Homo sapiens: one gene and its partners. The protein of the gene in region 3 interacts with the protein of the main gene of each other region in a pairwise test. Each region holds a gene or a part of one and is shown on either strand. Other genes may lie near its edges.

The links.
Region 1: the proteins of ZNF23 (region 3) and FHL5 interact in binary tests that used the Homo sapiens proteins (3 or more experiments, as listed by UniProt).
Region 2: the proteins of ZNF23 (region 3) and TSGA10 interact in binary tests that used the Homo sapiens proteins (3 or more experiments, as listed by UniProt).
Region 4: the proteins of ZNF23 (region 3) and GMCL1 interact in binary tests that used the Homo sapiens proteins (3 or more experiments, as listed by UniProt).

The regions. Positions count from the first base shown.
Region 1 is NC_000006.12:96,566,115-96,573,140, reverse strand, and holds part of FHL5 (four and a half LIM domains protein 5), read right to left. Parts: intron 1-7,026. UniProt on the Homo sapiens protein: May be involved in the regulation of spermatogenesis. Stimulates CREM transcriptional activity in a phosphorylation-independent manner.
Region 2 is NC_000002.12:98,997,940-99,004,965, reverse strand, and holds part of TSGA10 (testis-specific gene 10 protein), read left to right. Parts: intron 1-6,744; coding exon 6,745-6,769; 3' UTR 6,770-7,026. UniProt on the Homo sapiens protein: Plays a role in spermatogenesis. When overexpressed, prevents nuclear localization of HIF1A.
Region 3 is NC_000016.10:71,459,227-71,466,880, forward strand, and holds the start of ZNF23 (zinc finger protein 23), read right to left. Parts: upstream 3,022-7,654; 5' UTR 2,984-3,021; exon of another isoform or gene 2,433-2,983; intron 2,043-2,432; exon of another isoform or gene 1,928-2,042; intron 1-1,927. UniProt on the Homo sapiens protein: May be involved in transcriptional regulation. May have a role in embryonic development.
Region 4 is NC_000002.12:69,874,652-69,881,677, reverse strand, and holds the end of GMCL1 (germ cell-less protein-like 1), read right to left. Parts: intron 2,770-7,026; coding exon 2,674-2,769; 3' UTR 294-2,673; downstream 1-293. UniProt on the Homo sapiens protein: Possible function in spermatogenesis. Enhances the degradation of MDM2 and increases the amount of p53 probably by modulating the nucleocytoplasmic transport.

The DNA of each region.
Region 1 (7,026 bases), on a different chromosome or scaffold from region 3:
AATAAATGAATGAAAATATGAATGAATGAATTACATGTATGTATGACTTTTTGGTACTGTCAAAGATAATAAATAGTTTGATACCTTGATCAGGAGAACGGTTAATCTTCTTTCTAAAAGTATTAAAGGTCAGAGAGATAGCAGCAAGATAGCCAACTAGAAGCCCCTAGTGCTTATGCCTCTGTCAAAGACAGCCAGAACAATGGAAAAGCAGCTGCATTTTAAAACTAATAGAAACTTGGGTGAGCACAAAAACTCAGGATGGCTACATAGAGAATAAGGAAATGCCAGGCCTTCACCATCCCATCCCCCAAGTGGGATCAGCTGGAAGCCAGGAGGAACTTCTTATGGTGAGGAGGTAAGCAGGATGACTCCAACAATCTCCATCAACACCCTGGACACCAACAGACCTTCCCACTGGTGTTCTCTGCAGTCTTCTTAGGCACCAAGCCCACATGGTGAAGCTGCCTGGAGTCTATATAGCTGTGCTTAGCCAGAGAAGGAGTTGACACTGTGCCCCACCTGCTGTGGCCCATGTGACTATTGGCTATGGCATCTTGGAACAGGAACTACAGCTAGACTGAGCCTTACTCAAGGAGTAAGTAGTCATGGCTCCCCTTCATCCCTGAGACTAAACCACCCCTGAACCACCCCATCCCCAGAGCCCCACATCCCCAATATGTGCTGTTAACAGCTGTTAACACTTTTTCCTGTGGGGTCAAGTGGAGGTGGAATTGCTCTACCAACTCCTCCCCCTGCCCCTGCTGAAGCAGCATCCTGTCTCTTGGGAAAACAGTACCTTGGCTATTCAGAGCAGTCATGTCTCCCTGGTGTCTAAGTTGAAGTGGTGCCCTGCATCCTAGGAAATTGTGCCTTGGCCATCCAGAGCAGTCATGCACTCCATTACTTAAGCTGAACTGATGCCCCGCATCCCAAGAAAACAGTGCTTGTGCAGCCCAGAACAGTCACATCCTTCAAGCCTGAGCTGAAGTGGCACATTGTCCCTTGGGGAATTAGTGCTCTGGCTGAGCTGAGCAGAAACTGAGCTGAGACACCTTGCTCTATAAACTGAACAATTTTAGACTTCGATTCCCCAGCACTGGCCTAGCTCTCTAGAGTCTCAGATGCAGAAGTACCCCTCTATCTAGGGAGTGGAGTCATTGCTGTGTTTTTTCCTACCCACCTGTCACCCAGGGAACAAACAACAGCTGTCCTCCACCATTCTGGAGTACTGAAAGCAAATACACTTGGCCCCACACATTCTGGGATACTGCTGAGCACCACTATCCCAGGGTCTACAATCACTACTACCCAGTGCCTCATCCCTTGGAACCTGAGTTGACACTGAGCCCTATTGACTCAGGTTTCTGAATTGCAGCCATACCCTGCTCCCAAGGCCAAAGTTCCAGAGCACTCCTTATTCCCTGGAGTCAGGCCAGTGCTGTGCCCTGCCCCCCAGGGGTAGAATCACAGCTACAACCTGGCACCCTGAGCCTGAGCTGCTAGGGGGTCCCTCAGAATCATAGATCCTGGCTCTATGGGTAACCTACATCCAACCCTGCCACAAGGGGTGAAGCTGCACCCCAAGCCCAGTTGCCTCAATAGCTTTATGAGATACTGAGCTGAAAACTCCTACTGCATGTAGAATCCTGATCACTGCACGTAGAACCCATGCCACTGCAGCTGCTTGTAGGCCATGTCAGACTTGACACCAAAAGGGATGCGCTCAGCTAAGTCTCCTTATTTTAGAGAAAACCAGAATAGGAGGACCCCAGAAGCCCTTAACACAAAGAACATTAAAAACTTATGTTGCCAGTGCCATTGCCACAAACCTCTAAGCGTAGGCTATGAGGCACCCACAGTTATTCCTGACCTTGAATACAACTGAAGAAGCTGCACAGAGACTCTATCTCTATACCTATCTGGAAACAGAGTCACTACACCTTTTCTAACTGCACAGTAAAACTCAACTGCAGGATGAAAGACTTTCTTTATGAAAATCACTCCAGAAAGTTTGAAAAAGGTGATTATTTCACTAGATACACAGACATCAATGCAGGGACACAAGAAACATGAAAAAGCAAGGAAATAAGAGACCAACAAAGGAATATAATAACTCTCTAGTAACAGACTCCAATTAAAAGGAAATCAATTAATTGCCAAAAAAATGTAAAATAATGATTGTAAGGAAACTCAATTAGATACAAGGAAACACAGATACACAATTAAATAAAATAAGAAAAAAATTCACAATATAAATGAAAAATTCAATAAAGAGATAAAAATCATAAAAAGAACAAAACAAGAATCCTGCAGTTGAAGAATTCAATGAATAAAATATAAAATACAATAGAGAGCTTCAGCAGCAGACTTGATCAAGCAGAAAAAAGAATCTCTGAACTTAAAGCTAGGTCTTTTGAAGTTACCCAGTCAGAGAAAAGAAAAAAGAAATAAGAATGAAAATGAGTGAAGAATTCCTATAAGACTTATTGGAAAACATTAAACAAACAGATATTTGTATTATGGAATTTCCAGAAGGAGAAGATAAGGAAAAAGTATAGAAAGCCTGTTTAATAAAATAATAACTGAAAACTTCCCAATTTAGTGGTGGGGGTTGTGGAGGAGGGATATTTGAACATCCAGCTCCAGGAAACTCAAAATTCCCCAAATAGATTCAACCCCAAAAAGGTCCTCTTAGAGGTACATTATAGGCAAATTGTCACAAGTCAAAGACAGAGAGTTCTAAAAACAGCAAGAGAAAATTGTCAAGTCACATAAGAGAACTGCATTAGACTAGTAAATTTTGCTACAGAAACCTCACAGGCGAGGAGAGAATAGAGTTATAAACTCAAAATGGTGAAAGAAGAAAAAAAATTGCTAGCTAAGAATACTATACCCAGCAAAGTTATCCTTCAGAAATTAGGAAGAAATAAAGCCTTCTCGAGGTAAGCAAAAACTGAAGGAATTTGTCACCACTCACCTGGCCTTACCAGAAATGCTTAAGTGATTTTCACTTACATCTGGAAGTGAAAATCACTGTCATGAAAACACACCAAAAGTATAAAGCTCATTGGTAGAGCAGATATATGAGGAGAAAGAGAAAAGAATCAAACCTTGTCACTACAGAAAACCACCAAACCACAATGATTAACTATAAGAGAAAAAGAAAGGAACAAAAGATATACAAGACAACAGGAAAACAACAAAATGGTGGATGTTAAGTCCTCACTTATCAATAATAACCTTGGCTGTAAACAGACTAAATTCCCAACTGAAAAGATATAGACTAGCTGAATGAATTAAAAAAAAAAAAGACCTAAGTATATGCTGCCTAAAAGAAACTCACTTCACCTAAAAAGACACATATAGAATAAAAATAAGGGATGGAAAAAAAATCCATACAAATGGAAACCAAAAGCAAGGGAGAATAGCTATACTTATATCAGGTAAAGCAGACTTTAAACAAAAAGAGACAAGGTTATTTTCACTTCAGCAAGAAGATGTAACAATTGTAAACATACACACATCCAATACCACAACATCCAGATTTATAAAGCAAATAATTAAACCCAAAGGAGAAATAGATTTCAGTACAATTATAGCTGGGGACTTCAACACCCCTCAGCATTGGACAGATCATTCAGGCAGAAAATTAACAAAGAAACATTTAATTTAAACTGCACTTTAGACCAAATGAACCTACCAGACATTTACAGAACATTTCATTCAACAGCTGCAAAATACATATTCTTTTCATTAGAAAATGAAACATTCTTTAGCATAGACCACGTTAGACCACAAAACAAATCTTAACAAATTTAATAGAAATCATATCAATTTTTGACCACAATATAATAAAACTAGAAATCAAAATAACGAGGAACTTTAAAAATTGTACAAATACATAGAAATTATACAACATGTTCCTGAATAACAAATTAGTCAATGAAGAAATTAAGAGGAAGATTTTAAAATATCTTCAAACAAATGAAAATAGAAACACAAAATACCAAAACATCTGGGGTATAGCAAAAGCAGTATTAGAAGGTAAGTGTGCAGCAACAAACACCTATATCAAAAAAGTAGAAAGATATCAAATAAACAAGCTCATGATGCACTTCAAGAAACTAGAAAAGCAGAGTAAACCAAGCCCAAAATTAGAAGGAAAGAAAGAAAAGCATACATAAATAAAATTAAGACTAAAAAATACAAAATATCAACAAAATGGAAAGCTGAATTTTTTTGAAAAGATAAACAAAATCAACATTCCATTGGCTTGACTACCCAAGAAAAACGTAAAGGTCCCAATAAAATCAGGAATGAAAAGGAGACATTACAACTAATACCATAGAAATACAAAAAATTATCAGAGACTATTATAAACAGCTATATACCAAAAACTTTAGAAGACCTGACAGAAATAGGTAAATTCCTGGACACAAACAATCTATCAGAAGTGAACCAACAAGAAAGAGAACACCTGAACAGACCAATTACAAGTAATGGCATTAAGTCTGTAATAAAAAGTCTCTTATCAAAAAGAAGCTCAGAATATGACAGCTTCACTCTGGAATTCTACCAAAGATTTATAGAAGAACTAATACAAATTCTCCTCAAATTCTTCCAGAAATTGAAGATAAGGGAATTCTTTAAAACTCATTCTATGAGGCCAGTGTTACCTTGATACCAAAACTAGTCAAGGATGCAACAACAAAAAAAGAAAACTATAAGCCAATGAACATGATGAGCATAGATGCAAAAATCCTCAACAAAATACTTGTGAACCAATCTGGCAGCACATTAAAGAGATTATTCACCATGTAGGTAAGATTTACCTCAGGGATGTAATATACAAATGAATAAATGTGATACATTACATCAACAAAATGAAGGGCAAAAACAATTTGATCATCTCAAGAGATAGAGAAAATGTATTTGAGAAAAATTCAACATCCCCTCATGATAAAAATTCTCAACAAGTTAGGTATAGAAGGAATGTACTTCCACATAATTAAAGCCATGTATGACAAACCCACAGCCAATATCACACTGAATGGAGAAAAGTTTAAAGCTTTTCTTCTAAGATTTGGAAGACAATCATCTCACTTTTATTCAAAAGAGTACTGGAAGCCCTAGGCAGAGCACTTAGGCTAGAGAAAGAGATAAGGAGCATCTAAATTGAAAAGGAGGTCAAATTGTCCTCATTTGCAAATAACAAGAGCTTCTATATAGAAAATCATAAAAGCTCCACCAAAAATCTCAGAACTGATAAACAGATTCAGTAAAGTTGGAGGATACAAAAAAAAAAAAAAAAAGAATACAAAAACCAGTAGCTTTTCTATACACCAAAAACAAACTAGTGGAAAAAAAATCAAGAAACAAATTGCATTTATAATAGCTACAAAAAAAGCCATGTAGGAATATATTTAACCAAGGAGGTGAAAGATCTCTACAATAAAAACTGCAAAACACTGATAAAAAAAATTGAAGAAGACACAAAAAATGGAAAGATATCTCATGTTCATGAATTGTAGACATTAATATTGTAAAAATTAATACAATACTACTAAAAGTGATCTACCAATTCAATGCAATGTTATCAAAATACCAGTGATGTTCTTCACAGAAACAGAAAAAAACTCCTACAATTTATATGAAACCACAAAAGACCCTGAATAGCCAAAGCAATCCTGAGCAAAATGAACAAAGCCGGAGAAATCACATTTTGAACTTCAAAATATATTTCAAAACTATAGTAACCCGGATAGCATGATATTGGCATATGAATAGAGACATAGAACAATGGAGCATAATAGAGAACCCAGAAATAAATTCACATATTTACAGCCAAATGATTTTCAACAAAGCTGCCAAGAACATTTAATGGGGAAGGAACAGTCTCTTTGAAAAATGATGCTGGGAAAACTGAATATTCATATGCAGAAAAATGAAACTGTATTTCTACCTCACATAACATGTAAAAATCAACTCAAAATGGATTAAAAACTTAAATATAAGACCTGAATCTATGAAGCAACTAGAAGCAAACATAGGGGAAATACTTCAGGGTATTGGTGTGAGCAAAAATTTCATGGATAAGACCTCAATAGCACAGACAACCAAAGCAAAAATAGACAAATGAAATTATGTCAAACTAAAAAGCTTCTGCGCAGCAAAGGAAACAGTCAACAGAGAAAAAAGACAACCTGCAGGACAGGAGAAAGTATTTGCAAACTATTCATCTGACAAGAGTTTAATATTCATAATATAAAATGAGCTCAATAGCAAATAAAAAATCACATTAGAAAGCAGACAAATAAGCTGAATAGACATCTCTCTAAAGAAGACATACAAATGGCCAACAGGTAGGTACAAAAAATGGTCAATGTCATTAATCATCAGGGTAATGCAAATCAAAACCGCAAGAAGATATAATCTCACCCCAGTTAGAATGGCTATTACCAAGGAGACAAAAAAAAAATGCTGACAAGGATTTGGTGAAACACAAACTCTTATATGTTATTTGGAATATATGCATATATATGCCCATTATGGAAAACAGTTTGAAGGTTCCTCAAAAAATTAAAAATAGAACTACCGTATGATCCAACAATCCCACTACTGGGTATATATCCAAAGGAAAGGAAATCAGTATGTTAAAGAGATATCTGTATTCCCATGTTTATTGCAGCACTACTCACAACACATAGCCAAGATATGAAATTACCTAAGTTTCCATCAATAGGCGAATGGATTAAAAAAAGTGCTATATATCCCAATGAAGTATTATTTAGTTGTAAAAAAGAACAAATTTCTGTCATTCACGGCAACATGAATGAGCTTGGAGGACATTATTTTAAGTGAAATAAGCTAGACACAGAAAGATAAATACTGCATGTCCTCATGAATATGAAGAAGCTAAAAAAGTCAATCTCATAGAAGGAGAGAGCAGAATAGTGCTTACTGGAAGCAGAAAAGGGTAGGGGGAAGAAAGAGATAGCCAAAGGTAGGTTAAGAAATACAAAA
Region 2 (7,026 bases), on a different chromosome or scaffold from region 3:
GGGATGAAGCCCACTTGATGATGGTGGATAAGCTTTTTGATGTGCTGCTGGATTTGGTTTGTGAGTATTTTATTGAGGAGTTTTGCATCAGTGTTCATCAAGGATATTGGTCTAAAATTCTCTTTTTTTGTTGTGTCTCTGCCAGCCTTTGGTATCAGGATGATGCTGGCCTCATAAAATGAGTTAGGGAGGATTCCCTCTTTTTCTATTGATTGGAATAGTTTCAGATGGAATGGTACCAGCTCCTTCTTGTACCTCTGGTAGAATTCGGCTGTGAATCCATCTGGTTCTGGACTTTTTTTGGTTGGTAAGCTATTTATTATTGCCACAGTTTCAGAGCCTGTTATTGGTCTATTCAGAGATTCAACTTCTTCCTGGTTTAGTCTTGAGAGCGTGTATGTGTTGAGGAATTTATCCATTTCTTCTAGATTTTCTAGTTTATTTGCGTAGAGGTGTTTGTAGTATTCTCTGATGGTAGTTTGTATTTCTGTGAGATCGGTGGTGACATCCCCTTTATCATTTTTTATTGCATCTGGATTCCCTCTTTTTCTATTGATTGGAATAGTTTCAGAAGGAATGGTACCAGCTCCTCTTTGTACCTCTGGTAGAATTCGGCTGTGAATCTGTCTAGTCCTGGACTTTTTTTGGTTGGTAAGCTATTAATTATTGCCTCAATTTCAGAGCCTGTTATTGGTCTATTCAGAGATTCAACTTCTTCCTGGTTTAGTCTTGGGAGGGTGTATGTGTCCAGGAATTTATCCATTTCTTCTAGATTTTCTAGTTTATTTGCATAGAGGTGTTTAAAGTATTCTCTGATGGTTGTTTGCATTTCCGTGGGATCAGTGGTGATATCCCCTTTATCATTTTTTATTGCATCTATTTGATTCTTCTCTCTTTTCTTCTTTATTAGTCTTGCTAGTGGTGTGTCAATTTTGTTGATCTTTTCAAAAAACCAGCTCCTGGATTCATTGATTTTTTGAAGGGTTTTTTATGTCTCTATTTCCTTCAGTTCTGCTCTGATCTTAGTTATTTGTCTTCTGCTAGCTTTTGAATGTGTTTGCTCTTGCTTCTATAGTTCTTTTAATTGTGATGTTAAAGTGTCGATTTTAGATCTTTCCTGCTTTCTCTTGTGGGCATTTAATGCTATAAATTTCCCTCTACACACTGCTTTAAATGTGTCCCAGATATTCTGGTATGTTGTGTCTTTGTTCTCATTAGTTTCAAAGAACATCTTTCTGCCTTCATCTCGTTATTTACCCAGCAGTCATTCAGGAGCAGGTTGTTCACTTTCCATGTAGTTGTGCAGTTCTGAGTCAGTTTCTTAATCCTGAGTTCTAATTTGATTGATTGCACTATGGTCAGAGAGACAGTTTGTTATAATTTATGTTCTTTCACATTTGCTAAGGAGTGCTTTACTTCCAACTATGTGGTCAATTTTGGAATAAGTGTGATGTGGTGCTGAGAAGAATGTATATTCTTTTTATTTGGGTTGGAGAGTTCTGTAGATGTCTATTAGGTCCACTTGGTGCAGAGCTGAGTTCAAGTCCTGGATATCCTTGTTAAGTTTCTTTCTCGTTGATCTGTCTAATGTTGACAGTGGGGTGTTAAAGTCCCCCATTATTATTTTGTGGGAGTCTAAGTCTCTTTGTACATCTCTAAGGACTTGCTTTATGAATCTGGGTGCTCCTGTATTGATTGGGTGCATAGATATTTAGGATAGTTAGCTCTTCTTGTTGAATTGATCCCTTTACCATTATGTAATGGCCTTCTTTGTCTCTTTTGATCTTTGTTGGTTTAAAGTCTGTTTTAGGCCAGGCACGGTAGCTTACGCCTATAATCCCAGCACTTTGGGAGGCCGAGGCAGGTGGATCACGAGGTCAGGAGTTCAAGACCAGCCTGGCCAAGATGGTGAAACCCTGTCTCTACTAAAAATACAAAAATTAGCCGGGCATGGTGGCACTTGCCTATAATCTCAGCTACTCAGAAGGCTGAGGCAGAGAATTGCTTGAACCTGGGAGGTGGAGGTTGCAGTGAGCCAAGATCGCACCACTGCACTCCAGCCTGGGCGACAGAGTGAGACTCTTTCTCAAAAAAAAAAAAAAAGTTTGTTTTATCAGAGACTAGGATTGTAACCCCTGCTTTTTGTTGTTGTTGTTTTCCATTTGCTTGTTAGACCTTCCTCCATCCCTTTATTTTGAGCCTATGTGTGTCTCTGCATGTGAGGTGGGTCTCCTGAATACAGCACACTGATGGGTCTTGACTCTTTATCCAATTTGCCAGTCTGTGTCTTTTAATTGGAGTATTTAGCCCATTTACGTTTAAGGTTAATATTGTTATGTGTGAATTTGATCCTGTCATTATGTTGTTAGCTGGTTATTTTGCTCGTTAGTTGATGTAGTTTCTTCTTAGCCTCGATGGTCTTTACAATTTGGCATGTTTTTGCAGTGGCTGGTACCAGTTGTTCCTTTCCATGTTTAGTGCTTCCTTCAGGAGCTCTTTTAGGGCAGGCCTGGTGGTGACAACATCTCTCAGCATCTGTTTGTCTGTAAAGTATTTTATTTCTCCTTCACTTACGAAGCTTAGTTTGGCTGGATATGAAATTCTGGGTTGAAAATTCTTTTCTTTAAGAATGTTGAATATTGGCCCCCACTGTCTTCTGGCTTGTGGAGTTTCTGCCAAGAGATCTGCTGTTAGTCTGATGGGCTTCCCCTTGTGGGTAACCGGACCTTTCTTTCTGGCTGCCCTTAATATTTTCCCTTCATTTCAACTTCGGTGAATCTGACAATTATGTGTCTTGGAGTTGCTCTTCTCGAGGAGTATCTTTGTAGCGTTCTCTGTATTTCCTGAATTTGAATGTCGGCCTGCCTTGCTAGATTGGGGAAGTTCTCCTGGATAATATCCCGCAGAGTGTTTTCCAACTTGGTTCCATTCTCCCCGTCACTTTCAGGTACACCAATCAGATGTAGATATGGTCTTTTCACATAGTCCCATATTTCTTGGAGGCTTTGTTCGTTTCTTTTTATTCTTTTTTCTCTAAACTTCTCTTCTTGCTTCATTTCATTCATTTGATCTTCAATCACTGATACCTTTTCTTCCACTTGATTGAATTGGCTACTGAAGCTTGTGCATGCGTCATGTAGTTTTCGCGCCATGGTTTTTAGCTCCGTCAGGTCATTTAAGGTCTTCTCTATGCTGTTTATTCTAGTTAGCCATTCGTCTAATCTTTTTCCAAGGTTTTTAGCTTCTTTGCGATGGGTTCAAACGTCCTCCTTTAGCTTGGAGAAGTTTGTTATTACTGATCCTCTGAAGTCTACTTCTGTCAACTCGTTAAAGTCATTCTCTGTCCAGTTTTGTTCTGTTGCTGGTGGGGAGCTGTGTTCCTTTGGAGGAGAAGAGACACTCTGATTTTTGGAATTTTCAGCTTTTCTGCTCTGGTTTCTCCCCATCTTTGTGGTTTTAATCTACCTTCGGTCTTTGATGTTGGTGACCTACAGATGGGGTTTTGGTGTGGGTGTCCTTTTTGTTGATGTTGATGCTATTCCTTTCTGTTTGTTAGTTTTCCTTCTAACAGTCAGGACCCTCAGCTGCAGGTCTGTTGGAGTTTGCTGGAGGTCCACTCCAGATCCTGTTTGCCTCGGTATCACCAGCGGAGGCTGCAGAACAGCAAATATTGCTGCCTGATCCTTCCTCTGGAAGCTTCATCTCAGAGGGGCACCTGGCTGTATGAGGTGTCAGTTTGCCCCTACTGGGAGGTGTCCCTGAGTTAGGCTACTAGGGGGTCAGGGACTCACTTGAGGAGGCAGTCTGTCCGTTCTCAGATCTCAAACTCCATGCTGGGAGAACCACTGCTCTCTTCAAAGCTGTCAGACAGGGACGTTTAAGTCTGCAGAAGTTTCTGCTGCCTTTTGTTCAGCTATGCCCTGTCCCCAGAGGTGAAGTCTACAGAGATAGGCAGACCTCATTGAGCTGTGGTGGGCTCCACCCGGTTCGAGCTTCCAGGCTGCCTTGTTTACCAAATCAAGCCTCAGCAATGGTGGATGCCCCTCTCCCAGCCTTGCTGCCACCTCGCAGTTCGATCTCGGACTGCTGTGCTAGCAGTAAGCAGGGTCCATGGGTGTGGGACCCACCGAGCCATGCATGGGATATAATCTCCTGGTGTGCTGTTTGCAAAGACCACTGGAAAAGCACAGTAGTAGAGTGGGAGTGTCCCGAGCACTAGGAAAGGGAATTCCCCGACCCCTTGCGCTTCCCAGGTGAGGCGATGCCCTGCCCTGCTTTGGCTCACACTCTGTGGGCTGCACCCACTGTCCAACAAGTCCCAGTGAGATGAACCTGGTACCTCACTTGGAAATGCAGAAATCACCCATCTTCTGTGTCGCTTACGCTGGGAGCTGTGGACTGCAGCTCTTCCTATTCGACCATCTTGGAACGATCCCCTTTTTTTTTTTTTTTTTTAAGTCAGAGTTTCACTCTTGTCCCCCAGACTGGAGTGCAATGGCAGGATCTCAGCTCCCTGCAACCTCCACCTCCCAGGTTCAAGTGATTCTCCTGCCTCAGCCTCCCTGAGTAGGTGAGATTACAGGTGTCCATCACTACATCCAGCTCATTTTTTTTTTTTTTCAGTAGAGACGGGGTTTGCCATGTTGGGCAGGGTGGTCTCGAACTCCTGACCTCAGGTGATCCACCTGCCTTGGCCTCCCAAGGTGCTGGGATTACAGGCATGAGCCACCACACCTGGCCTAGTTTTTGTATTTTTAGTAGAGACAGGGTTTCACCATGTTGACCAGGCTGGTCTCAAACTCCTGACCTCAGGTAATCCACTCGCCTCAGCCTCCCAAAGTGCTAGGATTACAGGCATGAGCCACCACACCCTGCCATTTTGAAAATCTTTTTAAAAAATAGGTGAATTACACTGGGCGTGGTTGCTCACACGTGTAATCCTAGCACTTTGGGAGACTGAGGCAGACAGATCGCTTGAGCCTAGGAGTTACAGACCAGCCTGGGCAATGGTGAAACCCCATCTCTACAAAAAATACACACACAAAAAAAATTAGCCAGATATGGTGGCACGTGCCTGTATTTCTAGCTACTTGGTAGGCTGAGGTGAGAGGATCAACTGAGCCTGGAAGGTCATGGCTTCAGTAAGCCATAATCATGCCACTGCATTCTAGCCTGGGCAACAGAATGAGACCCTGTCTCAAAAATAGAATAGAACAGTATAAATAAAATAGATGAGTTAAAATCTTTTACATTATTGATATGACTGTTATGTCACATCAATAGTTATAATTACTTTCTGTACTATGTGATATTTGTTGTATTTCTTCATTTGATCAGTCTTCTTTGCTTTTTAACAAATTTCTTTTGGCTTTTATGAAAGTTTATTTTATTTTAGTTGTTACCTTTCTATTAATATGATTAACAATGCCCTTAATCACCTTTTTTCTCACTTAATCTTTTACTCTCAGTTTCAAATGGTGTCCTTTGACTGACACCTATTATCTAGACAACAGACATCACATTGAATTTACTTTCCTCTAACCACTGCTCTGTTTCCTGCCTCTCTAGTTTTGCCTTTCCCAGGTTGTCATGTAAATGGAATCATACAGTATGCAGCCTCTAGTGGTTGACTTTCACCCAGCATAATATATTTCAGATTTATCCAGGTTGTTGCATGTATTAGTAGTTGTCACATATTCCTTTTAACTGCTGAGTAGTATTCCATAGTATAGATGTACCACAGGTACTTTTTTTTAATGATTATAGTCTTGGCCATACACAGTGGCTCCTGACTATAATCCCAGAACTTTAGGAGGCTGAGGTGGGAGGATCATTTGAGGCCAGGAGTTTGAGACCAGCCTGGCCAACGTGGCAAAACCCCATCTCTACTAAAAATACAAACATTAGCTGGGCGTGGTGGCGCATGTCTGTAATCCCAGCTACTCAGGCGGCTGAGGCATGAGATTTGCTTGAACCTGGGGGCAGAGGTTGCAGTAAGCTGAGATCATGTCACTGCACTTCAGCCTGGGTGACAGAGTGAGACTCTGTCTCCAAAAAATAGTAATTAAAAAATAAAAATAGAATGATTATAGTCTCACAAGTAGTTGCAAAAATACCACAGACAGTCCCACATATCCTTACCCCAGCTTCTATAATGGAGTATCTTACAAACTGGGATATTGACATTAGCACAGTGTGATTAACTAGTCTAAAGGCCTTATTCAGATTTCACTAGTTTTTAGATGCACTCATTTGTTTGTATGTGTATATATATATTTTTTACAATCCACACACAGCACAACTATGATCAAGATGTGAAGTTGTTCCATCAGCACCAAAGAATTCACTCCCTCATTATGCCTATTTATAGTTGTAGCCCTGACCTTCTTCATCTCCCTGTCTCCTGGGAAACACTACTTTCTTCGCCATCTCTATAATTCTGTCGTTTTGAGATAACCTTTTCAGATTAACTTTTCTCATTCAGCATAATGCCCGTGAGATCCATCCAAGCTGCTGTAAGTATCAATAGTTCATTCCTATTTATTGTTGAATAGTATTCCATGGTATGAATGTACCAGTTTGTGAAAACTGAGTGAAAAAATATATTGTTTTTTGTTTTCCTTCATAGAAATGAAGAAAAATCTTACGTTTTGCTGAAGTGATACACTTACTAGAATAAATTTGTTACACATGTTGAAAAAGTTGAATTAAAAATATTAATCAGCATGATTTTTTCTCTTATAGGAATCTTTGCTACAGAGATTTCTGACACCTGAAATGATTCTTCACATCCCTGAGAAAGGTCAAAGTTACAAACTGATTTTTTTTTTTTTGCTACATGAGTGCATTTATCTTTTAAATGCTTGGCAATGTTAAATGTATTTATTAACTTTGTGTCTCTGAATCTCTGTTCTAATGTGCCATGTTGCAGTGATCTGAGATGACTTATAAAAACAAAAATGTATATGGCTCTTTCTATCCATGCAGTGATAGTGAGTGTAAAATCTGCTTACTTCACTATTGAAC
Region 3 (7,654 bases):
AGAGGCATTAACACCTGTGGGACCCCCTTGACCAATAGGGGAGAGAAACCAATGGATAAATGTTTTCCCCGTCGATCCCCCAGCGGGGCAGCCTTAAGACTCCAAGGCTCCTCAAACGCCCTGCAAGGCAGAGCCTGTTGAGGGCCGAGCATACCAATGCATCCTTGTACCAGTTCTCCCATCTCTGTTTCACTCCCCTTGTCTTTCACTCTGCCCCTGTGACCATATTCCTAAATAAATTCCTACATACAAATCTTTGTTCCACGTTCTGCTTTTGGGGAAGCTTAGACTACAAAAGGCTTTTTTCCCACCTTCTTGAGGTTGCATGACTTATTCATTTATTTTCATTCTTCCTATTTGGCAATTAAAGCCTATAAGGCCACAAATTTTCCTTGGGATACACTATTTGCCACATTCCAGAGGTTTTTATATTTCATGTTTTAATTACTGTTTTATAGTCAGTCAGCAATTCTGTTTTGTCTCTGACCTAGTAATTGCTTAGGATAGTTTACTGTTGCTAATTTCTTCTGTTTATAAGTTCTGGCTTTATTGCATGATGGTTATATAACCCAATCTACTAACTTCTACTTTACACATTTTTCAGGGTTTTTTTGTGACTCATGTCCATTTAAAAAAATATATTATCTGGTGTTTAAAGAGAAAACTTATTCTGTGATGGGAGAATATACAACTCCATTTTTAGATAATAAACCAACTCTACCAATTACATATGTAGTGTGATAGCTACCCCGCTCAGCTAGTCAAGGGTGTATACCTGCTGCCTGAACCTTGAAGACCGGGCAGTGAGTCAAGACCATGGGGCTCAGCAGAGGAGCAGGTGTTTGCAAGAACGTAAACATCCTAGAAAGTATATGAGAACCTACCAAGAAAAGTCTCATCGTTTAAATGCAGTAGGCAAACAGCCAGAAAATTCTCTAAAAAGTACTTAGAGACGAGGGGCATCACAGGTCTCTAAAGCTGTCCTGCTGCCATCCAGGAGTAAGTATGTAAGTCCTAATAAACTCATCTACTTGCCAAGCTGGACTCGTCCAAGGCATTCTTTGGTCTCTTGGCTCCCTCCCAAGGGGATAGTTTTTTTTTTTAAATACGATTCCAGGTTTTTTCCTGTTATGACATTATATAGATTTTCTACATAATCCTTGATTACTTTTACCTAATTAAACCAAGATGGCCAGTGAAGAACTAACTCTCACAAAACACTGAGCTCAGATGTGTCATGAGCAAATTCTTTCAATGTTTCGGAAATGAGTAATTCTAACACTATGTAAACCGTAGCAGAGCACAGCAAAGTAAGTTTCCCAATTCTTTTTATGGTGCCAGCACAATACTGATGCAAAAACTACAGACCAGTCTCATTTATGAATTCTAATGCAAAAATTCTATCAAGGAATAGACTCCAATAGTTCATTAAATACATCATGAGTAAGTAGGATTATCCCACGAAGATACTAATTAGTATATTTTTCACATTAATAAATCAAAGAAAGATAAACACACTGTCCATCTCAACAGATGCCAAAGATGTTTAACATAATTCAACATTTGTGCCTAATTTTAAAAACTTACACACTAGAGAAACTCTCATATGTAGGAAGTACGTACAAAAATATTATCAGCACATTTTAATAACAAAACACTGAAAACAACCCACATGTCCATTGAAAATACATCGATAAATTTTCATACAGTTTTTACAATGGAACATTACCCAGAAGCTACACACAGAATGAATTTGGAAACTTAACATTGAATTATGCGAGTCCCAGATGACTTATACACACAATGGTGCCATTTATATGAAGCTCAAAAAAAAAATTTAAGTACATTGCTTACAGATACATGCATATGTAATTATTTTTTAAAATAACAGGGCTACAATTAACACAAAAGTCAATATAACTGTTACCTCTAGGGGTTGGAGGCTGGGAGTTGGGTTGAGGAGGAGGAACACATTGATAAATTCAGCAGTACTGGCAATCTTCTCTTTCTTAATTGGGTGGTGTGTTCATGGATGTTTACTACTATATATGTAACATATAAATATATATTTTAAATAAATATATAAACCAGCAAGGATGGGGTGAAATTGAGGACCCAAAATGTAATACAAAGAACAGCCAATGTGCTTAACTATACTACAGTGAACATAACCACACTTAAGTGGTAGGAAAGAAAAGGGGTAAGCAACTTTGGAAAACAGTATTTTGACTAAATACCATAAGAGTAAAGACAAAAAGACCTGTATCCAAGTACTGTACTTTAGGTAGTAAATTTGCTTTTCATGGGGGTATGAATTAGCGATTCTGAGACTACTAAATATATTCTAAAACTGAGTGAATTCGTAATTACGTTGTAGAAGTCATTCCCAGGTCACTGTCAACCCTGAGCCGAGAGAAGCAGGGCTGAGTTACCTTTTGGGACTGACACTGCTCCAGGAGACAATGTCCTCCAAAAGCCGGGCTGCTTCTGCTGCCGGGTGACTGGGAGGGGCTCTGCGCTCCCACTCGGCCCTAATTCATGACCCTATGTCAGGAGCCTGGGAGCACACGGTCCATACTCGGGATGCACATAGGTTAATGTTCCTGCCAGACCTCAGCATGTCAAAAGACTTGTGGTATCACCTCGGGCCGCTTCACGCCCGCAAATATTCCATCTTTTAGCTGCACCGACACATCTTCCCCCGTCGACCAAGTGCTAAATGCTCAGGGCCTCGTGGCTGGGACAGCAACGTGCGTTTCCCCTTCCAATGGGCGCAAGCTATTGAGCCACAAAGACCAAAGCTGGAGTCGAGGAGCGCGGAAGAGCACCCCGGGCCGCCGCCCTGCTCCCTCTCCCAGCCTGGGCCTCCTGGCAGCGTAGGCCACGGGAGACCCTGCAGCACCCAGGGTGGGAGTGCGTCTCAACCGGACCCAGAGCCTGGGGGACAGGGCACGGCACACAGCGCCCGGAGCCCTGCACTCACCTCCGTAGCGGACTGCTCCCCGGCGCTGCCGGAAGTGCGTCACCAGGCGGCCGGGCCTCTCTAGGAGCAAGGTCGCTGCGCCTCGGTGGTGGTCACGCCCGGCCAGCTGTGGCCGCATCCCTGTCGGCTAGCTCGGGTCTGGCCCACGGTGACTGTTACCCCTGGGGAATGGGGCAGGTAAGAATCAGAGCCAAGCGGGGACCCAGCCCGGGGAGGTGAAGCTGCAGGTGCAGCCACGTGTGGGAGTCTTGGAAATGGACCAGTGGATGGCGCGCTGTCACACCCAATGCCCCCTTTTTCTAACAAATAGTTTGTAATGTCCATCTTATTCTCCTGACCTGATATTCATATATAATGGCCTAGAAAATCATACATAACATACACACCTACATATTAAAAACTAATGTTATGCCTTAAGTGTAATGAAAGAGAAAAAAAAGAGGACCGTCATCTGTCGTTTAAAAACACATACTTCAATGTGTTTGGTCTTGGCTGCTGCAGGAGACCTAATAAGGTGGTCGCCTTTACACATAGACGTTGTCTGAGTGCCACAGCCACAAAGCTGTGACTTACATTGTTGCAAAAGTCACAAAATTATGATCCAAAATGGCAAACATGTTTTCGTGAAGTTCTGAATGAAACACAGGACAATCGTCTCTTGATTATACAATAATTACATTCCTGGAAGATCAGTGTATGTTAAAACTGTGCAAAAATACATGTTTATCCAGAAAACAGGTTTAGATTCAGATAATTTAGAAATAGAATTTTCACCTACCTGAATGTTCAGCAAGACATTTGAAAGTGTGAACATTTTTTCAGTGGGCAGGACTGTCCTGTACATTGCAGGATCCTGGCTCCTATCCACAACGCTAGTAGCAATGTTACCACTGACACCAAATATAACAAAATACCTACCATAAAATTCCAAAATGAGCCCTGGGGGAAGGGAGACAGTACTAAATGCCACTGGATTGGACGACCCTTAAAATCCCCACCCCCTCACACACCCCCTAACCCTGGTAATGTGGGCTTTTCTTCCTTCCAGCTCTGATCCATCCAACGCTGCTGCACTGGAGACTGGTATTTGGCTCCCACTTGCCTCTGTGGCTTCTTATCACTCCCATTCATTCCCTGACTCTACCTCAGCCCTACATGCTAAAAATGCTGTTCTCTAAATCTAGAATGCCCTTCCCTTCCCATTCCTACCCTCCATCTTGACTGTTACTGGAAGTGTGAGCTCAAATCCCATTTTGCATGGGAAGCAAGCCTTCCCTCATCACCCAGAATAAGGCAGGACACTCATTTATGTGCCATCACAGCACTGTGTACTTACTTAATGGTGATAGTTTATTTATATGTCTGTCTTCTCTGGTGGCTGCAGGGAACAGACACTGTATCTATCTTGTTCAACATCATCATCCTCAGCTAGAGAATAACTGGCAGAAAGAAGGAGAGCAATAAACATTTGTTGTTGACAATGGTCCAAAGGCTCCAGCCCTAACTCTTAGGCAGAAGCCTACTTTGTGTGTCCCCAAGGGTAGGATATGTCTTATGCCTTGGACCTTGACAGTGACCATGGCCAGGTGCCCTTCTCTGCCTTGCCCTGACCCTGATCTTCACTGTTTTCCAAAATGAGTTCATTAAGAAAATGATTGGGCAGAGTAATAGCTGGGGATTACGTTGCTCTTGTCAATAAGTTCTGGTTTTCACTTCTTTCTAGGGTCAGAAATCAGGAGTGAGGACTTGTTGAAAGAAATAGGAAGGAATCAGATCACATAAATGCTGGCCCCAAATGTTTGCATCATAAACCCATTGCCTAATTTTACAGTTGAGAAAATAAAGCTCTCTAAATAACCACAAAGCTCCTACTCCTACTTCAGACATATCAGAAAAATGAGATAATAATGCACAAACCAAGTTTCAAAAGCTCTATGGTAGGTCTGGAGAGATGGAGATCAGTTCTTGTCTGTCAGCCCCTGTTCTTCCATTCTTATAAGGTTACAGAATCTCTAGCAAGGGACATGACAGCTCAGGGAAAAAGCACACATTTCCCAGCATTCTTTAAGGCAAAGTGTGTCCATGTGACCAACTTCTGGCAAACAGGCTGTAAGAAAATGTGATGCTGTGTCCTTAAAGACAAGGGACATGCCCTCCCTGCCCCCAAACCTTCATCGACCAGGTGGAATGTTGACAAGGGAGAGCATCAGAGCATCTTGGACCATGTGAATAAGGGTGTGGCTGCTGGGGATGACAGAGCAACTAAAAGGAGGAGGCACAGAGCTGCTATATCAGCCCCAGATGGCTTACTTTCTGATGATACATGAGAGAGAAATAAACTTTCATCAAATTTAAACCACATTTATTTGGGTTCTTCAAATTAATTTCCAAGCCCATAGCCTAACTAATACCCCTAGAAATGAGGAAGGATGGAAAAATCACACAACACAAGAGTTAAAAAATTAAGCTGGCTCTTCGACTACAGCATTCTAGAAGTTCATTTCCATGCTGGGCCTGCAGCCATGTAGTGTCAGTTTCCTCCTGCTCAGCTCTAAGGCTTCTTCTCCTGCACCCTTTGTCCCTGCAGCCCCAAGACCTCTCTAAAGCCCTTCCTCTCTGACCACCAGGGAAAGCTGACAATCTTCTCATGTTAAAAAAAATCTTTTTTGTTGGCCAGGCGTGGTGGCTCACACCTGGAATCCCAGCACTTTGGCAGGCTGAGGTGGGGGGAGTTACCTGAGGTTGGGAGTTCGAGACCAGCCTGACTAACGTGGAGAAACTCTGTCTCTACTAAAAATACAAAATTAGCCAGGCGTGGTGGCGCATGCCTGTATTCCCAGCTACTCGGGAGGCTGAGGCCAGAGAATCGCCTGAACCCAGGAGGCGGAAGTTGTGGTGGGCTGAGATAGCGCCATTGCACTCCAGCCTGGGCGACAAGAGCGAAACTCCGTCTCAAAAAAGAAAAAATATTTCTTGTTGTTTCCAGTTTTAATAGGACAGAGTAAAGATGGCTTTGCCTGCTTCTTCTCATGAAAACTGTGGCAAAACAACTGTCTGGTTGATGTTCATTCCAGGAGTTCAAGGCTGTTTTCAGGCTACAAAATTTTTACCTACTTATTGATGTTGTGAGTTCTGTGAATAAATCATTTAATCTATGTGGAGAAATGTACTAGGGTAGGGCAAGGTCTTATTCTCAAAGCAACCAAACATATATAGGAATAAGTTTACTAATAAATGTATAAGACATATATCAAGAAAATTTTAAACATTTGGGGACTAAACCAATGAAAACCCCTTGTGTAAATGGAAAGGCACAGGTAATCCTTCAGTAGGAAGGGTAGTTTTCTTTATTTAATCCATAAGTCCAACGTCATACCAAATAAAACCCCTATAGGATTTGTTTTAAAACTTGTGAAAATGATTCTAAAATTTACGCAGAAAAAATGTTAGAAGTGACTGGACAGTGCCTCATGCCTATAATCCCAGCACTTTGAGAGGCCAACGTGGACAGATCACCTGAGCTCAGGAGTTCAAGACCAGCCTGGCCAACATGGTGAAACCTTGTCTTTACTAAAAATACAAAAATTAGCCCAGCGTGGTGGCGCACACCTGTAATCCCAGCTACTGGGGAAGCTGGGGCAGGAGAATTGCTTGAACCCGAGAGGCGGAGGTTGTAGTGAGCCAAGATCATGCCACTGCACTCCAGCCTGGGTGACAGAATGAGACTCCGTCAAAAAAAAAAAGAGAGAGAGAAGGAGAGAGAAAGAAAGAAAGAGAGAGAGAAAGAGAAAGAAAGAGAAAGAAAGGAAGGAAGGAAGGAAAGAAAATGTTAGATGCTTATAAGGTACTACTGAAACTTAAGAAAGCACAAGTATTGAAAGTCAAAGAATGGAAAATAGATATATCAGACAAGTATTAAGGGAAAGGGAAAATGGCACAGCTATATTAATATCTCACAACAATAAGTTTAAGACAATAAATATTACGCAGAATTCAGTTGAGGGCAATGTAGCAAATAATATAAACTAGAATCTAGAAATTTAGAATAAGATATAATATTCGACATCATTTTAAATACTTAACTCACAGGAAAGTGTACCCACGTACCAAAACCAAACAAGAAACTAAAACCAGAGGCATTGGTTTGGACTGAGGACCTCAGCTGATGCTTTGGCCAACAGGGGTGGGAATGGTGAAGAGTTGTAAGTCTTGATATCTGAGAAAGCAGAATTATAATATGCAGGAGGCATATTACAGGAACAAGGAATAGGAACAGAGACTTTTCTCACACACATACACTCATCCAATCATGAAAGGATAAATTTTTTAAAAATCTCATGAACAAAGAGAGATAACAAAGAATCTTATGGTCCTTGCCTAAGCTTTGAAGTGGTAGTAGAAATGTCTTCTAAAAATTTATAATCATAGTTTGCATCATTAAGTATAGAGTTTAAATTAATACTATCTACTTGGACCAGTAATTCATAATCCAAGAAATTACATTAAAAACTAATCCTGATAGACTTCTGAAATAGTCACAACAGAATTAGTAGGCAATGACATTTAAAAGTTATTACAACCATATCTGATACATCTAAAAGTTTGGTGGAGAAATGAAACATATAAAAAAGACCCAAATCAAACTTCTAAAGATAAAAACCTATAATGTGC
Region 4 (7,026 bases), on a different chromosome or scaffold from region 3:
TTAAAAACAAAACATAACAAAACAAAACAGTGACTACCACTGTTCTCCACATGGTTTTGCCTATCTTGCTAAGTTTCCATGCCAAACCATTTTTTTTTAAAGGAAAGGTATTTATATCCCTTCTTAATAACTTAGTGTGAAACTCTAGGACATATTCTCTTAAAGACCTCTTCCTTACTAATAGACAAACACAAATCATTCTTAAAATTAAATATTGTTTTCTAGCTCTAGCATAAAAAAATAGTAGAGGCTGTAAGACAAAAGCTGACAAAACACAAAGCTTTCACAAACCATGGTTTATACAATACTTTATCTTACACTATTAACACTTTATTGAAAATATTTCTATTGAAAAGAACTCTGGAAACACATAAAAATATTTGGTAAGAAAACAAAAGCACATCTTTACTACCAGTGTGAATTACTACCTGACAATTATCAACTTCTCAAATAAGAACATTAACCTACTTGTGATTGAAGAAAGAATTATCCTGTCTATGGATGACATAAGCAACTTGGCCAGGACAGAACCAATGGATGAAACCACATATAAATCCAATTTGGCCAGTTAACTTATGTAAGTGAAATGAAACAGTTAACTTTATTCATTAATATGATCAAAACATTATCTTTACTTCCAAGATCTGCAAAAACTTAATTATCCAAATAATTTAAGTTTGGAATTTATATATTTTTCAATACATAAAGGGTAAGGAAACTCTTATACAGTAATGAGACGGAAAGAAAACAACAGCTTCCCGTGAAAAAGACCTAATGTAGTCAAATATAAAAATAAGTACAGTAGCCTCTTTTTTTTTTTTTTTTTTTTTGAGACGGAGTCTCACTCTGTCGCCTAGGTTGGAGTGCAATGGCGCAATCTCCACTCACTGCAACCTCTGCCTCCTGGGTTCAAGTGATTCTCCTGCCTCAGCCTCCTGAGTAGCTGAGATGACAGGCGTGTGCCACCATGCCTGGCTAATTTTTATTTTGTGTATTTAATAGAGATGGGGTTTCACCATGTTGGTCATGGCTGATCTTAAACTCCTGACCTCAGATGATCTGCCTGCCTCGGCCTCCCAAAGTGCTGGGCTTACAAGTGTGAGCCACCACACCTGGCTGACACCCAGCTGAAATGTAACCTCTTGATAACAGCCAAATCACTGTATTAGAAACATTTAAATTCCAGCTCTGAGGGTCAAGGGTGAGGCATTTAAAAGGTTCCTTTAAGTTAAACCAAATGGATGAATTTTAAAAGAACAAAAGCAATTTATGAACCTATGGGCATATCATTAAAAAAGAAAAAAATTATTAATAAATTCCAAAAGTTAAAAGGAGTTGGGAAAAAAACCTAACTAGAAAGAAAAAATTTTGGTTTCAATTAAGGGGGATTTTTTGGTCCATTTTATGTAAGAGCTTACTCTTTTTCCAAATGGGCATTTATTATTTGCACAGATACATAAAAATGATTCCCATTTTAAAAACCATAATAAAAATATACATTAACCACAGAAGTACTTACTCTAACTGGAAAGAAAATGAACATGGCTATTTTCAAAACAGTAATAAACACAAAAGGTCAACATACATAAATCATGACAAGTGTACATCTCATTTTTGACAAAAATAAGTTCCATTTTTACATTAATGCTTCATCATCAGGCTCCATATTACATCCTCTGACCTTATTTACATTTACTATGAAATTTCTATTAGCATGTGTCACTCAAAGGCACTCAATTCAGAGGGTAAAAAGTCCTGAGCTTAAGTAGGAAACAAAGTTCCCAACTAAAATTTGAACATAAATAATTCTAAAGATCAGAGAATATTAAAATGTTTAAAACTATAATATCTGGTACATAAATAATTCAAAACCTAATAATAAAGGTGTACAGACTGTCAAAGAAAAGACCATGTAAGGCAAGAAATATCCTTGGAATCAAACTGATTTTTCCCTCATTCAAGATCATTTGAAGGTGCAAAGCTAACTTTCACTGTTCTTAAACTCCTAGGAAAGTCAAATTAAAAAAAATAGCAATGACAATGCTTAAGTTTTAAAAAAAGTTTATCAGCTTAGTCTCCAAAACCAGGAAGAAAATATTTAATGATTAAAAACAAGTATGACCTGGAAAGATATTAGACTAAAAGGAGGAATCACAATGAGCAGGTGAAAATGTTAAAGGAAAGCTTTCAATACACCAACTGAAAAAGGCATTTCTAATTGGCCAACCAAATTATTCTTTTAGATTATTTTAGCCAAATAAAAAGAAATTTACAGATGGATAACTGAGGTCCACTAACATAAGGTAGAAACAAAGTTTAAGCTAAAAATTAAATCTATATTTTGTTGCAGATAAATGTGAGATTTACCTACAGCAATTTTCTATTGATGCTAAATTAAAAGCATGAATTGACATCGTTCTAACAGAAATGGTTTGACAGATATTTTCTTGGCTTTAAAATGTTCTTACGCATATGCATAGAAATGCAATGAGGATAAGAATAATCTTCTGTATTGTCTGTACAGTTCATAAGGCCTTTGTCATTGTTAGTCACCTTCGATGTGAATATCAGTAGGGCCATTAAATTAAAGCTGGCCTAAAAAGTTTTCAAAGTGCTACTGTTTCCAACTGATGAAATCTTCAGTTTTCTGGATTTTCTGGGTGACGATTATTTTCAATTCTTTTTTTCTGGTGATATATACAAGAAGTTACAGCAGATATATAAAGGGAAGATCAGAAGCCTGCTGTCCAAGTTCATCACCACTTGTTCCTATAAGACAGATTTGTAGATTCAATGACAATTAGATAAAATAAAAACAAAAAACCAAACTGTTGAACTGAGTGAACCAAAGGAGATAGTGTCCTGAGTCTGAGATCCACAACTCCACTCTCCAAACTCCCACCCATTAGCTGTGTGACCTTGTCAAATGCAGCTTCCTCACTGTAAGATGGGGACAGTAAGAGTACCTGACTTAAAGGAGGATTACAAGAGATAATACACAGGGGGTTTTGCAAAGCCAGCTATCTATTAAGTACTCAATAATGGTAGTTATTTTCATTATTGCAAAAATTTCTATCAAATACTTACATATTTTGTCAACAGATACAATGTCTAGAAATACATAAACTTCTCACTGGGCTTCAATTTTTAAAAAAATTTATTTCCTTTTACAAAATTAATTAATTATTTTTAAAAATGAGATAGGGTCTTTCTATATTGCCCAAGCTGGCCTTGAACTCCTGGGCTCAAGAGATCTTCCTGCCTCATCCTCCCGCCTCAGCCTCCTGAGTAGCTGGGACTACAGGCAGGTGCCACTGTGCCTGGCTACTTGGCTTCAATTACTGATGGCCGTTGGGTACAGCAAATCACCCAGATGAAGGTCGGGAGTCATTATCATCATCAAAAAGCAGGGTTCCTACTATTGACATTTCCCACTGTCCCTATGACAAACATGTAATTTGTCTCCTGAAACATAAAATACATTATCATGGAAAAGCAATTTCAGGTTCAGTTACATCAACACACACAAGAATGCTCAGAACTCCCAGAGACAGGAGCTGACACTACACAAATATAACATCCCTGATGCTACAGATCTCTGTTTGGAACCTCATATATCCTTTACTAGAAGCATTTGGTAAATAGAATCAATCCTCAGAGTAAAAGAAGAAACACTAAAATGAGAATTCCTACGTTTTAAATGCCTGGGATATGCTCTCTGCAATAGTATGCATTAGTTACACTTTATTTATTTTGGATAAGATACTATTAAACACTGTTTAAATCCAAAGTTTTAATTTTTTACTGAGACATGTATTCCTGCATGAAGAGGAACTAAAACTAGAATATCTGTGTGACTGAAGCAGACTCACTAGACACAGCTTCTGTGTTGAGGGAACAAGAAGATAAATTTGAATAAAGAAGGTAGAGAGTACAAATGTCTCACACACACACACACACACACACACACAAACACACAATCTCTCTCTCTGTACGAGGGAAAGTGGTATTATAAAAAGACATCAGTGAACAAAATCAGGGGAGGCCATCACCTAGACTGTGCTAACAAGTGTCACCAGAGAGGAATTATGCCAAAGCATGGTTGGTCTTCAGATGCTTGAGACATCCTGAACTAGTCAAAATTTATATCAATAATCTGGGTGAAGGCACATTTACCAAATTTGTTGAGGACAAATGTTTTGATGATATGTATATCTGATGATAAAAATCAAGATTCTGTTCCATAACTAAAAGGCTCTGAGGAAGATTAGCCTTCTAGTATTTGAATACAGTTAAGATTGAGGCAGGGAAGGGTAGGTCAAAGGGCCAACTCTGGAGAAAGAAGGAAGGCACGTGGATATCACTTGGCTGAATGGATACACCAATTTTTGAATATTAAATTGTATTAATCCCCACTCTCCATTCCCAAACAGGATAGGTCGATCCGAGCTTCATCAAATCTGTTGTTTCACCTAAAGGTTCAATCTGCATCTACATTTGCATTGAAGTACCTTTATAGCAAAGTTCTATTTTCCTTATTCCATTGTGGATGGAATCTGTGGAGCCCACATATAGCAGCAGCAGAGCAGCAGCAACTTCCTAGGTCCCCATTTCTACTTCCAGACAATTAAATAAATTTCTGGGTATTTGTTGTTGTTGGTAGTGTTTTTTGTCTGTCTGTTTTTGTTTTGAGACAGGGTCTGACTCTGTCACCCAGGCTGGAGTGCGGTGGCATGATCATGGCTCATTGCAGCCTCAGCCTCCCAGGCTCAAGTGATCTTCCTGCCTCAGCTTCCAAGTAGGTGGTACCACAGGCACATGCCACCACGCCCGGCTAATTTTTCAATTTTTTGTATAGATAGGGTTTTGCTAAGTTGCCAGGGCTGGTCTTGAACTCCTGGTCTCAAGCAATCCTCTGGCCTTGGTCTCCCAAAGTGCTGGGATTACAGGCATGAGCTACCACGCCAAGCCTGCAATTTGGCTTTGATTCTCCATCCCAGCTTTTCAATGTCTCACCAGGTTACCTTTTTTGTCCATCTCTTAAATACCAGTGGTCCCTAGGGTTCTATCCTGTCATATTCTCTACACATTTCCTGTACATTATCTCATCCAATTATTATTTCTAGTTCAGGCATTACTTGTAAACTCCAAATCCATTATTCACCAGCCTATCAAATTTTCACCTTGATGCTCTCAAATTAAACATGCCCTAAACAGAATTCATCATCTCTTCACCATCACCAACACTATGTCATGTTCATTTTCCTTCCTATAATTCAAATCTCAGGTAAAACCACTACTGTAAATTAAATTGCTCAAATCAGAAAACCATCTGACATTTCCTCATGCACACACACAATTAAGAATCAAATTCTCAATTGCACCACTTTATTTCCAGAACCCATCAATATTTTCCTCTTCATTGCTACATTCTTTAAGGTTCTTATCACTTTTAATCTGAATTATAGCTATATAATCATAAATTGTTTTATTGCCATTATCATATCTTTAATCCTTCCTACACATTGCTGTCTGACGGAACCTTCTATAGTGAAAATCCATTTAGCATGGTCTTATAAGATGGACAGTTACAAAATAAATATACAAAAATCACTAACTTTCTTACATTATCAAAAACTATTAGAACAAATGATTCATTTCATATTAGCAACTGAAATGTAAAATACTGGCTGGGTGCGGTGGCTTACACCTGTAACCCCAGCACTTTGGGAGCCTGAGGTGGGCGGATCACGAGGTCAGGAGATCGAGACCATCTTGGCCAACAGAGTGAAACCCTGTCTCTACTAAAATACAAAAAAGCTGGGCGTGGTGGCATGTGCCTATAATCCCAGCTACTTGGGAGGCTGAGGCAGGGGAATCGCTTGAACCCGGGAGGTGGAGGTTGCAGTGAGCTGAGATCACGCCACTGCATTCCAGCCTGGCGACAGAACAAGACTCCGTTTCAAAAAAAAAAAAAGAAATGTAAAATACTAAGTGTTATACTTCCAGGAAATACACAGGAACAATATGGGAAAAACTACAAATTTTAGAGACAGACATAAGGGAAGACCTACGTAAATGTAGAAAATACCATATTCCAGAAAGGAAGACATCAATGGTCCACAAACTACTCTACATATTTAATCATATAAATTAAAATCCCCATAGGAATTTTTGCAAGGAAACTTGATAAAATGATCCTACATCCCATACAGGAGAATAATCATGCACAAAGAACTGAGAGATTTTTGAAAAAAAGAAAAATGAAGGTGGTTTTGCGTAACTAAATATTAAAATGCATTTTAAAGTTAGCCTAATTAAAACAATGCCTTGTCTTCATAACAAAGAAATCAATAAAACAAAAAGTCCAGAAATGAAAGCAAGTTTATAAGTATTTCATGTACAATAAGGCATTTCAAATACATTGATACATCCAGTACATTTCAGATATATCGTCAAATACTCCAAAGTAAAAAATTAAGCCATAAAAAGAACAGAAGAATATATAGATGACTATTTATATAATCCTAGTAAGATGGAGGCCTAAGGATAACACCAAAAAAAAGAAATCATAAAAGAAAAAGATAGATTGTTTTGAAGGTTGAAAAGACAAATGACAAAAATGTAAAAACTGTTTGGGCCTGGTGGCTCATGCCTGTAATCCCAGCACTTTGGGAGGCGGAGGCAGGTGGATCACTTGAGCCTAGGAATTCCAGACAAGCCCAGGCAACGTGGCAAAACCTCGTCTCTATAAAAAAATACAAAAAAGTTAGCTGGGCATGGTGGTGCGAGCCTGTAGTCTCAGCTACTTGTGAGGCTGAGGTGCGTGGAAAGGTTGGGCCCAGGAGGTGGAAGCTGCAGTGAGCCAAGATTGTACCATTGCACTCCAGCCTGAGTGACAGAGTGACAACCTGTCTCGGAAAAAAAAAAAAAAGTAAAAACTATAGAGTATCACAAATGTATTTTTAATATATAAAAGCTGTTAAAAATTAGCAAGAAAAAAATGAAATTTTAATAAAAAATTAA